Linked DNA regions of Homo sapiens: region 2 is linked to region 1. The links come from fine-mapping of genetic effects on gene expression. Tissue or cell type: amygdala. Region 1 holds a variant in brackets; the other region holds the start of a gene. All regions are shown on one strand. Distances are from middle to middle.

The links. PIP is the estimated chance that this variant, and not a neighbour inherited with it, causes the effect.
Region 2: CCND2-AS1 starts here. The variant in region 1 is fine-mapped to the expression of CCND2-AS1 in amygdala (GTEx, PIP above 0.99).

The regions. Positions count from the first base shown.
Region 1 is chr12:3,931,425-3,939,688 of GRCh38, reverse strand. All of the region lies in intron 2 of LOC105369608 (a long non-coding RNA gene), which reads left to right. Among named protein-coding and RNA genes, the nearest start is that of PARP11, 62 kb to the right of the region's middle. The variant T/C (reference allele first, on the strand shown) is at 4,079.
Region 2 is chr12:4,271,679-4,279,678 of GRCh38, reverse strand. CCND2-AS1 (CCND2 antisense RNA 1) reads left to right here and starts at 3,495. Exons shown (of 2, transcript NR_125790.1): 1 at 3,495-3,620. It overlaps CCND2 (cyclin D2), which reads right to left and starts at 5,917. Exons shown (of 5, transcript NM_001759.4): 1 at 5,444-5,917; 2 at 3,459-3,674; 3 at 760-919. The coding sequence starts at 5,638. RefSeq lists silencers at 656-848, 5,987-6,076, 6,607-6,726, 7,507-7,626, 7,611-7,802.

The DNA.
Region 1 (8,264 bases):
TAGTTCAGTGTGGAACATGGATTAGATGGGGGGACACTGAGGACAGTGAATTTACTTCCTTTTCAAGAAAGAAAATGCCATGGTGTTTAGAACGTAAGAAGCTCCACTTAGATATTTGTCAACGATTCTTACTGCCTCAAACTTCCAGGTAGCCTTCTAGGACTTTTACAATCTAGGCTTCATAACTTTGATAGATTTAAAAAATACATATGTAAGAGGGTGGATATGCATCTCTGTGTCACTTGGGACTGGGATAATTTGTGTATGTAAGTTGCCCATGAAAACGAGGACTTGTACTTCTTTAAATACAGTGACATTTCTCTTACTCAGAATTACTTACTGTACAACTTCAACAGCCTAGGAACAGGAAGGCTTCAGAGCAGTCAAAATAAACATCATACTACTCATGCACTAAAACTCATGAAGCTTACTCAGGGCCCATTTGTTCTCGGTTTTCTTCTTCAGATTTAGCTCCTTTTGGCTTTTATTATTTTTAATTAACACATAATAATTGTACATATTTATGGGGTACAGAGTGATATTTTGATACATATGTATACAAATGTGTAATGATCAAATCAGGTTAATTAGCATATTCATCACCTCAAACATTTATCATTTCCTTGTGTTGTATCAAGCTAATTTTTATAGATGTTTGTTTTTTCCTGTGTTAAAGGATTTATGCCTCCACAGAACTGGTTCCTTGACCGAGAGTCAAATCCAGGCTGCAGCAGTACCCATTTATGAGTCCTAGCACAAATTCTTATAAATGATAATGCTTTATAAGCTGCTTTTGCATATATTATCTAACTTTAATCTTCACTCACTGTAATTTTTCAGTACTTCCTTACTTTCTGGCAATACAAGATGTTCCAGATTCATTTTGTAAATTTTCTGACCTAGTCCTAGAATCAGATATTTCTTCAAGGAGTCTGGGTTTTTGTTTGTCTGTTTGTTTGTTTGTTTTTTAATTGAAGAATGGTGTTAGAAATCAAGATCTGGGTGCTAGGTGTGCTCATTGCTATTGGAGACCCATTGGTTCTATGCCATTTCAGCTGGCATATCAAGGAAATGTATGTGTGTTCACTAACCTGTGGGTGTACAAGTCTATACGTATTTCTATGTGTAAACATCTATGTACGTAAATTCATACCAATGTCTTCAATTCAAAACCATTACCACATGGTTAATTTTAGCCTCCTCCCCTAGCAAACCTGTAATTCCCTAGTCCAGTAGTAAAAATCTGGCTACCACCACCTACCATCCATTTACTTAATTGTTCATTTCCAGTATACATGTATGGTAGTGTAGTGTCAGGCTGTGTACTCATATCCCCACGGGAAACAACCTACCAGGGAGAGTTCGGTGTTTATGTATCATTTCTTTTGACTGTAGTCTTACAGATTCTATTCATTTCCAAAGTTGTTTAGGTCAGCTCTTTTCCCAACTCCCACAGTGAGGTTGTTTTATGTATTTATGATAGAGTTAGATTGCTTCATCACCTTTATCATTCCATTCTGATGTTTCTCAACCTCTTAAATGATTTTTTTAAAATTTGTATGCATTAAGATTCATTCTTTGTGCTGAAAAGTGCAATGAATTTTGAATTTTGACAAATAGTATCCAACGTTACAGAATCATGCTGAATAGGTTCACTAAAAAATTTCTTGTACTTCACCTATTCAACCCTTCCTCTTGTCTCATGAGCCCTTGTCAGCCACTGATTTTTTTTTTTTTTACTCTGTTGCCCAAGCTGGAGTGCAGTGCCACAATCTCTGCTCATTGCAACCTCTGCCTCCCGGGTTCAGGCAATTCTCTGCCTCAGCCCCCCAGGTAGCTGGGATTACAGGCGTCCGCCACCATGCCCGGCTAATTTTTGTATTTTTAGTGGAGATGGGGTTTCACCATGTTGCCCAGGCTGATCTCGAACTCCTGACCTTGTGATCCACCTGCCTCAGCGTCCCAAAGTGCTGGGATTACACATGTGAGCCACTGTGCCCGGCCAGCCACTGATTTTTAAAACCATTGCTGTAGTTTTGCCTTTTAAGACTGGCTTCTTTCATTTATCAATATGCATTTAAGTTTCATCCATGTATTTTTGCCACTTTTTGTTCCATTTTTTAAATCACTGATGAGTATTTCACTGCTTGGATGTGCCTATTTTGTTTAATCCATTCACTTATTAAAGGACATCTTGGTACTTTCAGTTTTTGGTGGTTATAAATCAAACTGTTGTAAATATTTGTGTGCAACTTTGTGTGGACATAAATTTCAAATCCAGTTGCATAAATACCCAGCAGCACAAATGGTACAGGCACTTTTGAAGACAGTTTGGCAGTTTCTTAAACTGCCTTCAAAAGTGCCTGTACCACTTTGCATTTCCGCCACCAATGAATGAAACTTCCTGTTACTCCACATCCTCATCAACAATTTATATTGTCAGATTTGTGGATGTTGCAGATTGAAGCCGGTGTGTGGTGATATCTCATTATTGCTTTCATTTGCAATTTTCTAGCGACAAATGATGTTGAGCATTTTTTCGTATACTTATTTGCCATCTCTATGTCGTCCTTGATGAGGTATCTGTTCAAATTTTCCGTCTATTTTTAATTGAGTAATTGGGTTTTTTTACTGTTGCGTTTAAGAGGTTTTTTTTTTTTTTTTGCATATTTTGAATACAAGTCATTTATCAGTTATGTGTTTTGAAGATATATTCTCCCACTCTGTGGTTTGTCTTGATTCTCTCAAAAGTGTCTTTTTAGAGCAGAAGTTTTTTAATCTTAGTAAAGTCCAGCTTATCAATTTTTTTCAAAGGTGATTCTTTTGATCTCGGCTCACTGCAAGCTCCGCCTCCCAGGGTTCACGCCATTCTCCTGCCTCAGCCTCCCGAGTAGCTGGGACTACAGGCGCCCGCCCCCACGCCCGGCTAATTTTTTTGTATTTTTAGTAGAGACGGGGTTTCACCGTGTTAGCCAAGATGGCCTTCATCTCCTGACCTCGTGATACCCCCGCCTCGGCCTCCCAAAATGCTGGGATTACAGGCGTGAGCCACCTCGCCCGGCCAGCTAGAACTTTTCAACTTGTATGGCTGAAACTCTATACCCATTGGACATCAACTCCCTACCCATTGGACAGTCCCCTCTGCCCACTCTGGGTAATCACCATACTACTTTCTGCTTCTATGAGTTTGACTATTTTAGATACTCATATAAGTGGGATCATGTAAGATTTGTCCTTACATCACAGGCTTATTTCACTTAAAATAATGTCCTTAAGATTCAGACATGTTATAGCATATAATGGGATTTTCTTCTTTTTTAAGACTTAATAATATTCCATTGCATGTACATATCACATTTTGCTTATCTATTCATCCATTGATAGACATTTAGATTGTTCCCGCCCCTTGGCTGTTGTGAATTATGCTGCTATGCACATCAGAATGCAAATATCTACTCAAGACTCTGCTTTCAGTTCTTTGTGATAAATATCTATATGTGAGATCACTAGATCTTATGGTAATTCTATTTGTGATTTTTTTTGAGGAAACCTCAGTACTGTTTTCCATAACGGCTACATGATTTTCAGTTCTCACCAACAGTGCGCAAGGGTTCCAATATCCTCCTCAATCATCATCTCCATATCCTCATCAGTGCTTACTCTTTCCTGGTTTTTTGATCGTAGCCATCCTAATGGATGTGGGTGATATTTCATTGTCGTTTTGATTTGCATTTCCCTTGTCATTAGTGATGTCAAACAACTTTTAATATACCTGTTGACCATTTGTATGTCTTCTTTGGAGAAATGACTATTAAGTCCTCTGCCTATGTTTTCGTTTGTTTGTTTGTTTGTTTGTTTGTTTGTTTGTTTGTTTTGAGACGGAGTCTCACTCTGTCCTCCAGGCTGGAGTGCAGTGGCGTGCTCTCGGCTCACTGCAAGCTCTGCCTCCTGGGTACACACCATTCTCCCACCTCAGCCTCTCGAGTAGCTGGGACTACAGGCACCCACCACGACGCCCGGCTAATTTTTTTGTGCTTTTAATAGAGATGGGGTTTCACCGTATTAGCCAGGATGGTCT[T/C]GATCTCCTGACCTCGTGATCTGCCCCCCTCGGCCTCCCAAAGTGCTGGGATTGCAGGCGTGAGCCCACCTCACCCGGCCCTTTGCCTGTGTTTTAATAGGTTGTTTATTTTGTTTATTTTTTTCTCTTTTGGGTATAGAGTTGTAGACGTCTTATATTTTTAAAATATTAATCTCTTACTATATATATAATTTGCAAATATTTTATCCTGTTCTTTGTGTTCCCTTTTCATTCTGTGACTGTTTTCTTTGCTGACAGGAGTGTTTTGGTTTGCTGTAGTCCCACTTGTCAATTTTCGCTCTTGTTGCCGTGCTTTTGGTTTCCTATTCATTGCCTTTTGTGGTTTCAATTGAGCATTTTACCTGATTCCGTTTTATTCTTCTTCTTCGCTCAGTTTCTGATGAGAAGTTGGAGGTAATTCTTATGTTTGTTCCTCTATAGATAAGGTGCATTTTCCTCTGGCCTCTCTCAAGACTTTTTCTTACTTTTGAATTTTCTGCAGTTTCAATACAATATGTCTAAATATAGTTGGTTTTTGTTTTATGGTTTTTTGTTTTTGTATTTATCCTGCTTGTGTTCTCTGAGCTTCTTAGATCTGTGGATCTGTGGTTTAATGTCTGACCAAACACAAATTTGTGGAAATGTTCAGTCATTGTTGCTTCAAATATTTATTCTGTTCATTTCTTTCTTTTACTTCTGATATCCCCATTATATGAATGTTACACCTTTTGTAGTCGTCCCACAATTTGTGGAGTTTTCTCTTTTTTTCCCCAGTCTATTTTGTGTGTGTGTTTTCATTTTGAAAGTTTCTATTGACATATTCTCAAGCTCAGGGAATTTGTTCCTTAGCTGTGTCCATTCTACTAATGAACCCATCAAAGACATTTTTTTTTTTCAAATCTCTAGCTTATTTATTTTATTTATTTATTTTTTTGAGACGGAGTCTCGCTCTGTCACCCAGGCTGGAGTGCAGTGGCGCGATCTTGGCTCACTGCAAGCTCTGCCTTCCGGGTTCACGCCATTCCCCCGCCTCAGCCTTCCGAGTAGCTGGGACTACAGGCGCCCACAACCATGCCCAGCTAATTTTTTGTATTTTTAGTAGAGATGGGGTTTCACCGTGTTAGCCAGGATGGTCTCTATCTCCTGACCTCGTGATCCCCCCTCCTCGGCCTCCCAAAGTGCTGGGATTACAGGCGTGAGCCACTGCACCCAGCCATCTCTAGCTAATTTTTTTTTATCTCTAGTGTTTTTTAACTCTAACCTTTTTTTTGCTTTTTTCTTAGAATTTCCATCTCTGCTTACACTGCTCATCTTTTCCTTACACGCTGTCTACTTGATTTACTAGAGCTCTTACCACATTAATCATGATAGCTGTTTTAAATTCCCAGTTCGATAATTCCAACATCCCTGTTGTATCTGAGTCTGGTTCTAATGCTTTTTCTGTCTCTTCAAATTGTGATTTTTGCCTTTTAATATGTCTTGTAATTTTCTTGATAGCTGGACATACTGGATAGAAGGAACTGCTGTAAATAGGCCGTTAGTGTGTGGTGGCAAGGCATGAGAGGAGAGTAAACATTCTATAGTCCTCTGGAGCAGGTCTCAATCTCTTAGTGAACCTGTGCCCCTGGGCTGTGAACCTCACAAGTGCATCTCAGTCCCCACACCCTGCCCTTGGGTGGGACAGAATGACTCTGGGGGCTGGAGTTTGGTATATTTCCCTTTCCCCAGTTTAGCTAGGTTCTGGTAAAACTCCAACATTTTAGGCTCTTTTAGAACAGTTTCTCTTGAGGGGAGACAGAGTACTCTGGTGTATTTCAGAATGGTTCTTTTCGCTCTTTACCTGCTAGGAATACAAGGGGACTTTCCTCTGATACTCACTGTAAGAACCTGGTGGAGCTCCTGCAGTAAAACTCACAAAAATGTGGTTACCCCTCTATGACTGGGTCTCACCGGAGTGTTTAACTCTCAAACTTGTCCACACTGAGCCTGCAGTAATTTGTCAGTTACAGTTCAGTTTTCCAAGGCGGGCGTTGCTTCCTGCAGTGGTTTCTGTGAGTAGGTTCCGGCTCCAGTTAGGTTGTAACTCTCTGTATTCACCTGTCTGTCTCTCCAATTTTGGGGGCAGCAGTTTACCCTGTGATTTCACATGCCTGATAGTTTTAAGGAGAATTATTGATTTTTTCAGTTTGTTCATCTTTTTACTTATTAGGACAGAGAGGCAACTTCCAAACCCCTTACATACCGGTCTGGAAACTTGAAGTCTGTAATAACTTTTTCATCAGTCTGGCTCACATCCTCCTTTGACCTTCAGAGTAGTCCTTAAGCAAGTCATTGCTATTTCTGCCACAGTGTTAGGTAGCAGCTGAAATGTAAGTATCGCATAGCCACAGTCTACGGAGTTCACCAGATCGCTCATCAGCTTTCCTGGAGGAAATTATCTTAGATCAGTGGTAATTCTCAATTGGGGACACTCTGCCCTCTAGGGAACATTTGGAAATGTCTGGAGACATTTTTAGTTGTTACAGCTGAGGAAGGTACGACTGGCATCTAGCAGGTAGAGGATGCTACTAACCATCTTACACGGCACAGGAAAACCCTCCACAACCAAGAATTATCCTGTCCAAAATGTCAATAACTCTGAGATTAAAAATCCCTGTCCTAGACAAACCCTGAGGTTTTCTTCTCCTACTCCCACCCCACCCCTCATCTTCACTTCCACCAATGTTGAGCCAACTCAATGCCTTCAGTGCAATTTTACAACTTTGAAATCCAACTTTTCTCTTGATTATTTTTCGGTCTCATCACCATAATCAGCATGCCAACACTTTCCTGAGTATCTACTGCCCACCAGGCAGCATGCTTGTTACCTCGTTATCTTGCTTCATTCATTCTCGTCAAGTATTAATTGAGCCCTTACTAGGTGCCAGGTAAACCACTGAGGGAATATGAGGGAAAGATGGCTGTCCCTGTTTTTATAGATGAGGGAGCTGAAGCTCACAGAGGTTAAGAGAAGTGTCCCAAATCACACAGCTCATAACTGGCTTGGCCCGCCGGACTTTGAGGTCACAGGTCTTTATAGTATGCCAAGCTAGTGCTGCACATGCTGAGAGAAGCCACCATAACTCTTCTGTCTTCTGGGATTCGTGGGTGCCCAGATGCTCTGTCTAATTGAGGCTAGCACTAAGTGTTTGCCAAAGTTGGGAAAACCAGGGCAGGATTGAGGAGGTGACACCATCAGGGCAGGGAGAGGAACAGAACCCCAATGTTCCAAGTCCCCACCCAGGTGCTCTGCAGGCCTCCCAGAGAGTGTGAATGGGTTTTGATGGGGATAATAGTCTCTCCAAATACACTCACTGCTAGTCTTTCCTATTGAGCAATTCAGCTTTCAAATGCTCGGTACATTAGACCAAAGGATGGGTGTTTTGTCTTCTTTTTTCCCTGCCTTTTTCTTTTTTAGGGAAAGCAATTTGCTCCTTTCTGATTTAGAATGAGATCTGGCAAGTAAGTGCTTGTTCTCCCTCCTTCCCTTGTTCCCCCACTCCCTCCCCACCCTTCAGTTAAAAAAAAAATCTTGGGGGGAGAGAGGGGGAATAAGAACACAGGATCCATGCTAAGCAAAACTATTTGCATAAGCTGTACACTTGGTCCTTAGAGCTTGAGCTGATCTAACCTATGACAAATTCCTCTGTCTCGGCTACCTGCCAGCTGCGTTTTCATCGGGGCTGGCAAGACAACTGAAGTCTACATTCTGTACTAATTAACGACCTTCAGGGGAGAAGACCACCAATTGCAATGCCAGCACACTTCGCTTGTTAAAGGGGACAGGGGGCCTTGTTGGACAAGGCCCAGGCTTTTTTCTTTGGGTGGTGGGCGGGTAAGCAGGCCAGGAAGGGTGAGGGGTGGGCTGGGGGTGGGGGGGGCGGGGTGCAGTAAACAGACCAGAAAGACAAACTCCAAGTTGTAGTAAGAGTTGGGAAGGCATCTGCACATGCCAGAACATTGTAGTGAACCCTGGGCTTCTGCAAGGTAACTCCACAGCAAGCAGAAAGGGGCCTGGGGGAGAGGGGCTCTCTTTTGGGGAAAGGAGTTCTGCTGACCTGAGAGCTGCAGGTGGAGCCCGCACTATCATGGGTAGCCTTGTTTAAAAACATCAGGGCTGCCTTATCTGGCTGGCTTCATGGTGGGA
Region 2 (8,000 bases), 340 kb before region 1:
GCAAACCACTGCCTTTGGTTTATTAGGAAACTACAAAACAAATGGGCCAGTAGGAATGATGTATCAATTGTGGGATCCACGTGGTAGGCGGAATTGCAACGTTAAAGGCTGCGGCCAAAATCAAAACACCTCCACATGAACTGAGGGCATCAGAACCCAGCGCTCAGAAAGTAAAGCCTCACCGAAAGCCAACCAGGTTCCCTCCCGCGCCCAGTGGGGCAAACAGCTAGAGAAGCAAACAGCTAGAAGGCCATAAATGCCCTACAGTAAAAAAAAAAAAAAAAGAATTTCTTTGGTCTCCCTTACCACTAATCAAGGCAGGCAGCATATTTATCTTGACGTTGTTCCTTTAACCTGTATTTGCCCCCATCCCCCTCGAGATTTCCTCTTGGGCTTATCTCCAAGCCATCCTTTTCCTTAAAAGATTAAAGATTTGAACACAACCAGTGAGCAGTATATGTAATCTTCAAAGAGCACTTTAGCCATCATAAAGAATATTTTAACAGGCACTAATTTTTTTTGCCTTAACCACACCTGTCCTCATAAACCATTTATGAGTTTAGCAGAGAAAGCGAATATATAAAGCTCAGATAAAGAAAAAGCAACCCAGGAATGAAACTTCAGACTTTAGACTACTCAAGACCACCCCTCCTCCAAACTCCTGAACTAAAATGAAAGTTCCTACGGCCTTTTGCCTCTCCCCGGACATCTCCCAAAAGAGCTCCCCCATCTCCCTCCCCGGCTCAAGCCTCATCTTACCGGTGGCACACAGAGCAATGAAGGTCTGAGCATGCTTGCGGATCAGAGACAGCTTCTCCCGCTGCTGGGGCAGCTTGCGCAAGATGTGCTCAATGAAGTCATGAGGAGTGACAGCTGCCAGGTTCCACTTCAACTTCCCCAGCACCACCAGTTCCCACTCCTGGAGGGGAAGGCAGGAAGAGAAGAGGAGAATCTAAATTCCACAGGCTGACCTGGTGTAGGGGGCTGGGGGTTGGGCTCCAGACCAGTTTTAAGGCCGCTCATTAGGACGTGGCTGCTAGATTGTAAGGCGGGCCCATTTGTCAATGTGCCCCTGAAGCTTTGAAGTTGTTGACAGCTCTTCTTATGCTTCAAATGTCAGGCTCCACTGAAAATAATGAGAGCCCAGGTAGCTGTTGCCAAGATTCTATTTTCTTCTACTTCGTTTCCACTCCAGCTCCCCTTACCCCCTCCCAACCCTGACTTGCAGGCAATACTGCTTCCCGCCCACCCAGAAAGCTGAACCTACAATGAGATACGGCCAAGGTCATTGTGGCCCTTTCATGGTAATTTATTGTATATGTCTCTATCACCGAATTAATAGTCTTTTTAATCTTCATGGAAAAATGATGCACACAGATAAAGCTCAAAATAAGGTTCCTTGGCCCAACTCCTTGGCAACCAATTAGCTTGCTTTTACTTAGTGCCAAAAAGTGCCTTTATCTCTCTGCTGCTCAAACTCCCCTTTTACATATCAGGCAGAAATTCTGGGGATGTGACACTCAGCCCTTTCCCCTAAATGTTTCACAGGCCATTGTCATCATGACTAAAGGACCACATGGTCATTAGCAACCTCATTTTGCAGATGGAGGTGATCTGGGGCAAGGTGAGGGTGCCTGCTCAGTGTCACAGCATCCCTCAGTGCAAGTGTGGGGACCACACAACCCTGTCTCTTGGGTCTCTCACCAGCAACCCACCTGAAAAAGAACCTTGTTTCCCTCTTTCACTGAGATACTTACGGGAAACTGTGCTCAAAGGGAAACGGTCCAAAATAAAACATTAAAAATATCGTATGTGCTACCAGAAAATATGCCTATCCACTGAGCTGTCATCAGAAGAATGAGAGGCAGGGCCTGTTTGCCAATGCACCCTCTCTCCCATTCACCTGGAGAACCTGGAATCTCTTTCATTTGCTAAACCAGCAACCAGAGCACCAGTCCCACAGCTGTGGGGCTGGGGGTGATTCCCTTTCCCTCCCAGGCCTCAGCCTTCTCATTTGTAAAATAGGACTCTTCCAAATCCCAACTTCTGGGATAAAGGGAATAGGAAAAAGCCAAGTTTGTTTGTAGCAATATATTGCTTGGCTAGTCCTGGAAAGATTTGGGTGTCCTGAAGAACATCTCAATTCACCATCCTCTCGAAACAAATGAACCATATGAAGATGATTTTTCCTGCTCTCTCATGAGAAAAACAAATTGGTTCCCAATTCTAACAATGTTTTCTTCATAAGCTTTAAAATCTGCCTTGGCTTTCTGTGTACAGCCGGGGTAAAGCACCCCAATAAACTACTAAACCACCATCATCTTCAAAGATGGCTTGAAATGCCAGCCCTTCCTCTTCACAGGGTAATGCGAGTACGAACCACTGGTCTTGCACCGTTATTAAAGGAAGCAGATCTCCCAGAAGAAAGCACCTTTCTAGGCCTCTCGGACCAAACCAGAAGCAGCTAAAACCTGGCAGCGGTTCAAAGGTGAAGTCATTCAGGCCCCTCTCCACATTCTCGGCAATTCCTCCCCCAACCTTGTGCATGTCTTCCACTAGATGGCAGCAGAGCCCCAGAAAGGAAGGCTCCTCACAAAGAGCTCAGTTCAAGAAGCCAGCCTCAGCCCTGTGGACTTTGTGCGGGCCCTACCAGTGAGGAGGGGGAGGGGCGGGAAGGAGGGGGTGCTTTTCTGAACAGTGCAAAGAGGGGTGTGCAAACCACCGAAGGTGGGCCTTGGAGCCGCTATTCCATGCGGTACAGCTGCAATATGGTCGTCTTATATGTCAAGCTGCAGGGAAAAGGAGTTAGATCAGGTGGGAAAAAGGTTCCCTGGTAGAAAAGCAGAGATAAGACAGGATCCCTGGGGTTGTACAGAGGTCACAGTCCCACTGGAGGTAGGAACCCAGGCCTCGGACTCCTTCAGTGAAAGGCCACATTTTGACTTTGCTCAAAAGTCAATGAACTGATATTTAGTGAACAGCTATTATGTGTTGGTATCTTGAGACTTTGTAGATATAGAGGGCATTACCTTTGAACTCCAAGTTTTTAGGAGACACCACAGCCACATACCTATCATGTGAACACGTTCTCAGACTATTTTTGGAAATTTGGAATTTAATTAAAATATTATCACTGTTAATTAAAATATTCCATGCGTCCCCTACACACATGCATACACAATTGCAAATGAGTCTCACCAACCCAAATCTCCATGAGGATCTTATTCACAGATGTAGCCTCAGTGCTGGGCACGGAGCCTGGGCACATAGTAGGAACACACAAAAAATAAACAGTGGTTTCCTATTAAATGAGCTATCGCCCATAAGTGGGTAAATTCTATTGGTGGGGTCATTCTGGATCCCAAGAATTTGCTCTGGCAGTGGTGATAGAAGGCATATTGTTGGCCAGGGGAAAGCGGGAATCGCAGAAAGGAAGGGAGGAAGGGGCCGGTCATTACCAGCAGCTCCTGAGGCTTGATGGAGTTGTCGGTGTAAATGCACAGCTTCTCCGCGGTCAGCGGGCTGGTCTCTTTGAGTTTGGAGGCCAGGAACATGCAGACAGCACCCAGGAGTTGCAGATGGGACTTCGGAGTCGGGACCCCAGCCAAGAAACGGTCCAGGTAATTCATGGCCAGAGGGAAGACCTCTTCTTCGCACTTCTGTTCCTCACAGACCTATAATGGGAGTGGGAAAGGGTTGGGGGGCGGGGGTGGAGAGCATAGCATCAGCAAAAGAGAAAAAGAATAAAAAAGCGTAATCTATCGAAACAAAAAAAATTAATTTTTTTTTGTGGGAGGGGGAGGGGACCAGAATGCGTGATAAGAATAAAGAACAAAGATGAGGAAACTGGAGTGAATCAGAATAGCCCATCAGTGCTTTGGTATTCCCAGGGATCCTATAAAAGGGGGTGAACTACAGCTCCAAAACGGGGAGTCGGAGAAGTGCGCAGCAGCCGCGGCAGCTCCGCGACGCTCCCTTTGGCTACTCCTTCGCGCACTCTAACTCACTCACTCTTTTTTGGATTTCGTCATCTTTTCAAAAAATCAATAAAAATATTCTGGAGGCTCCGGGGGTCCACTTCTTGGTCTCATCCGGATCCCCAGATCCTCCTCTATCATTCCCGACAATTGGAAAAAATGTCTGGGGGGGTCCCTGCGGCCCAGGGGCCGCTTTTGGGGGGGCGGGTGAGGAGAGGTGGGGAAGAGAGGGGGAGGGAGGAGAGGAGGAAGAGCGCCGCAGCCTCGGCAGCTGGAGTCGGAGCAGGGGGGGATGGTTTCAAAAAATAATTAAAAATCGAGGAAATATCCTAGAAAAGCCCTTTTGGCGTGAAAACCCCAAAGAAGAGCCAGGCTTCCCGAAACAGAGGTTTCGGGTGCCAGAAAGGTCTGTATTCCGACCCCTGGGGCTTTGGATCCCGGGAGGAAACTTGAAGGGGTGAGCGCCGCGGCGGGAGTGTCCGGCTGCGGCCCACAAGGACAGAAACTAGGGAACGCGGTGACGAGCGAGGGGAAAGACGGGAGCAGAGAGCCCTGGAAAGAGGCACGGGGGGCTCCCACCTCTCCTTCAGGGGTGACCCGGTATCCCCCCTACACACACCCCCTCCCCCCCTTCCTACCCCACCCAAATCTCCGCACCGAGGAAGCTGGAAAACCAAACTGTAAGTAATCTTCGTGAGGTGGGGGGTGGGGGAGAGGGCACGATTAGAAGTGGGGTGGCCGGGATAATGGGGTGCGAGGGTAAGCGGGCGACGTTTCCCAGCCTTTCCAAAGGGAGTTTGCAAAGCAACATGGCGAAACCACGGCAGGTCCAGAGCTGTGCATACGTGGGCACACGGCTCGCTGGGCAAAGACTTGGAGTGAGGGGCAAGAAGCGGTTCTTTTGGGTTCCCCTGAAACACGCGTTTCTTCAATGGGACTTCCGGGGCTCCCGAATTCCCCGTTTCTCTCCTTCTCCCTCCTCCCTCCACCTCCCCGGTGAAGTGCCAGCGCGGAGTCGCGACCACAGGCGGGGACCTGAGGCCAAGACGAATTTGCTCTGGCCTTTTGGGGGGGGTTGCCTTTCTACTCGGGGTCCCGATTTCAGGCCCCGACTCTCTTCCTGGCCGCAGCGCAAGCAGCCGCGGCGGCTTCGCAAAAGACAGGTCGCGAGGGGGGTGGGAAGAAGAGGCAGCCACATGCAGGAACACGCGCGCGGGATGCTCCCCTACCCCCGCCCAGGACAGCCTCGCTTCTCCCAGATTTTCCTCCCCCCTCTGCCTCCCCAGTTTATCTGGAGAGGAACAGAAATAAAGCCACGCGTCTCGCCAGAAGGCGCGCGGTAAACTCCCGCACAGGAGCCGGGAGGCCGGCGCGGGGATTGCCCTCTCCCAGGTTTAGGGCTCCGGCCGGGGACCCGAGCATCCGGAGGGGTCCTGGCTCCTGGCGAGCGCCACCCCCCGACCTACCTCCAGCATCCAGGTGGCCACCATTCTGCGCATGTAGGGTTGGATGTCCTTCTGCACGCACTTGAAGTAGGAGCACTGCGGAAGGTAGCGCTCCTCGATGGTGAGCAGGTTCTGCAGGACGCGGTCGTCTCGGAGCAGGTTGCGGTCCCGCACGGCCCTGCGGACCGGGTCCACCTCGTGGCACAGCAGCTCCATGGCCAGCCCGGCGGCCCCTCTCCCTCCTGCTTTCCCCGGCCTGGAAAAAGGTTTTTCTGTTTTTGTTTTTTGGAAGGGGAGGGGAGAGCGTTCCCCTGACCTCCTTCCTTTGGCTAAATAGGGGGTTTTCGGGGGAGAGGTGAGGGCAGAGAGAGAAGGTGGAGCAGAAGGGAGGCGAGGATTGGGTGGTGGGCGAGCAGAGCCTCGGGGCTGCCTCACTCGCACCGGTCCTCCCCTTAAAACTGGTCTCGCTCTCCCCTGCTCGCTCTTCTCCGCTCTGAAGCGGTGACGCAAGCTGGCTGGGCAGTTAGCTCTCCTCCCTCTCCCCGCGCTCCCCGCTCTGGTTCCTCCTCCCCTTTCCTCCCCTCCCGGTCCTCCCCTCCTCCTTTCAATCTCTCCCTCCCTCCCTCCTTTTCCCCTCTCGTTATTAAGGAGAACAGCAGCTGGCCCGACCCAACTTCAAACGCGGTCCCCCGCCACCCCCCACCCCTCTCCCTCCATCCAGCCCTGCATGCCAGGGGCCCCGGACAGGGCAACCCACAAAAAACTACCGACTCCTATTTCTGCCCTCTAATTTCACTCATTCTGTAGGTGTAGCACGCCAAAATACGACCCTCCAACTTTGGCTTCTTCAAAACGGATCCTAATCCTCCTGCCCTTGTATTTAAGATCCAGGAATGTAGGGTAGATTATCTGAAGATGGGGTGACCTCAGACAATTTAGAAATAGGTCCCTTAAGTGAAAAATAAGGGAGGGGGTGATTTTAGAAAATAGCAACCTCGCATACCCAGAGATAAAGGTCATGTCCCTGAAGTCTGTGTTCCTGATAACTTCGAAGCTGTTTCGAAAGCCCCGATTAAAGGGACCAGAACAACGTCCCTTCTGCCCCCCCCTGCAGAGTGTGTGCAGAGGAAGAAGAGGGAGGGAGAGGTGGGTATTAGGAAGGAAGGGGGGTGCTTCTCTGGAGGGATAGAATGTGATCCTCGAGCAGAAACCATCGTGTTTCTGGGGGCTCTTCGGGCGCCGTGGGGCGACGCGGTGCAGCGTCTAGGGCCGCCGCAGGCCGGGGGCAGGGCTCCCAGCGGTTCCCCCGCGGCCAGCGGCCACGCAGGAAAAACCCGCTTCCTCGCCCCTGCATCTGCTGACAAGCCGCCCGAGGTGTCTGCGCTGAGCGTGGCCACACCGATGCAGCTTTCTAGGAAATGGCCCGGGAGGGGGAGGGGGCGAGTGAGGGATTAGGTCCGGCTCCCCCTCGCTCCCCCTGCGCAAACACCACCACCCCTTCCTTTCCCCGGAGGCATGAGGCCTCCACGCTCGGTCCTTCGCCCGCATCCTCGCCGACCCCTCCGGTTTCGCGCCTCACTCGCCAGGCTTTCTCCCTGGGAGCCGACTGCGGTGAAGTCGCCGCCAGCACGGTCGGCCCTGACACGTGCTCTAACGCATGCTTGAGTCAAGGCTGTCTTTACAGGAGATACGATCTGGTGGCGTTTCTTCACCTCCTTCCTCCCGTCACCCCCCACCCCCACCGCGCCCTTTGGTGTATTTCACTCCAGGAGGAAGGGGAGAGACCAGCGCCCTGATGTGCTGGCCAAGCTGGCACGTGCAGCGGGCATGGCGTGGCTCGAGCTCTCTGGGCACACCGAGGCCGACTGAGTGCCTCCCTCACCGAGAGAGGGGGCCCGGGCAGGGGCGCGGAGAGCCAGCAAGGCGGGGTGGGGCGCGGGCTGGGTGAGCCGTACACTAGGTTCCCTGCAAGGCGGAGGAGGGGAGCGAATAAACTAGAGGTGCAAGCGATTAACTCAGGCCCCGGAGCCAGCCTCTTTAAACGAGGGTGGGGCGGAAGGGGTGGTGGGGGGGAAAGGAGGGGATATCGCTTTAAAAGGGTGAGGAAGAGTTTGGGGCGCCGTCTCCCCTCCCTCTATTTGCATAGCCAATAGCTCTGGGGCTCCTGCTACTGCGCGCTGATTGTTACCGGGCAGATTACTTTTTTTTTTTTTTTTTTTTTTTTTTTTTAGTAGGACGCGTTCCCCACTACATCAAAAGGAAGCCAAGGGAGGGCGGAGGGAGAGCGGGCGCTGGGGCGGGCGAAAGCTGGGGAGAGGCCCGGCCGCCTCCGACCTTATCAATAGCAGCGGGAATGAGTATCCCATCTCCTATATGTAAAGAAAGGGGAGGGAAGGGGCGGGCGAGGAAAATGTCTAATTGCTGTGGAAGCCATTAGCTTTCAGGAAGAAAAAAAGCTCGCTGAAAAACCCAAGTTGCAAACTCAAAATGAAACAGTCCAGCGCCGCGGATGACACCCGGGCCGAATACCGTGTACACCCGCACACAGTCGGCCCCGAACAATCACCTATTGGTTTTA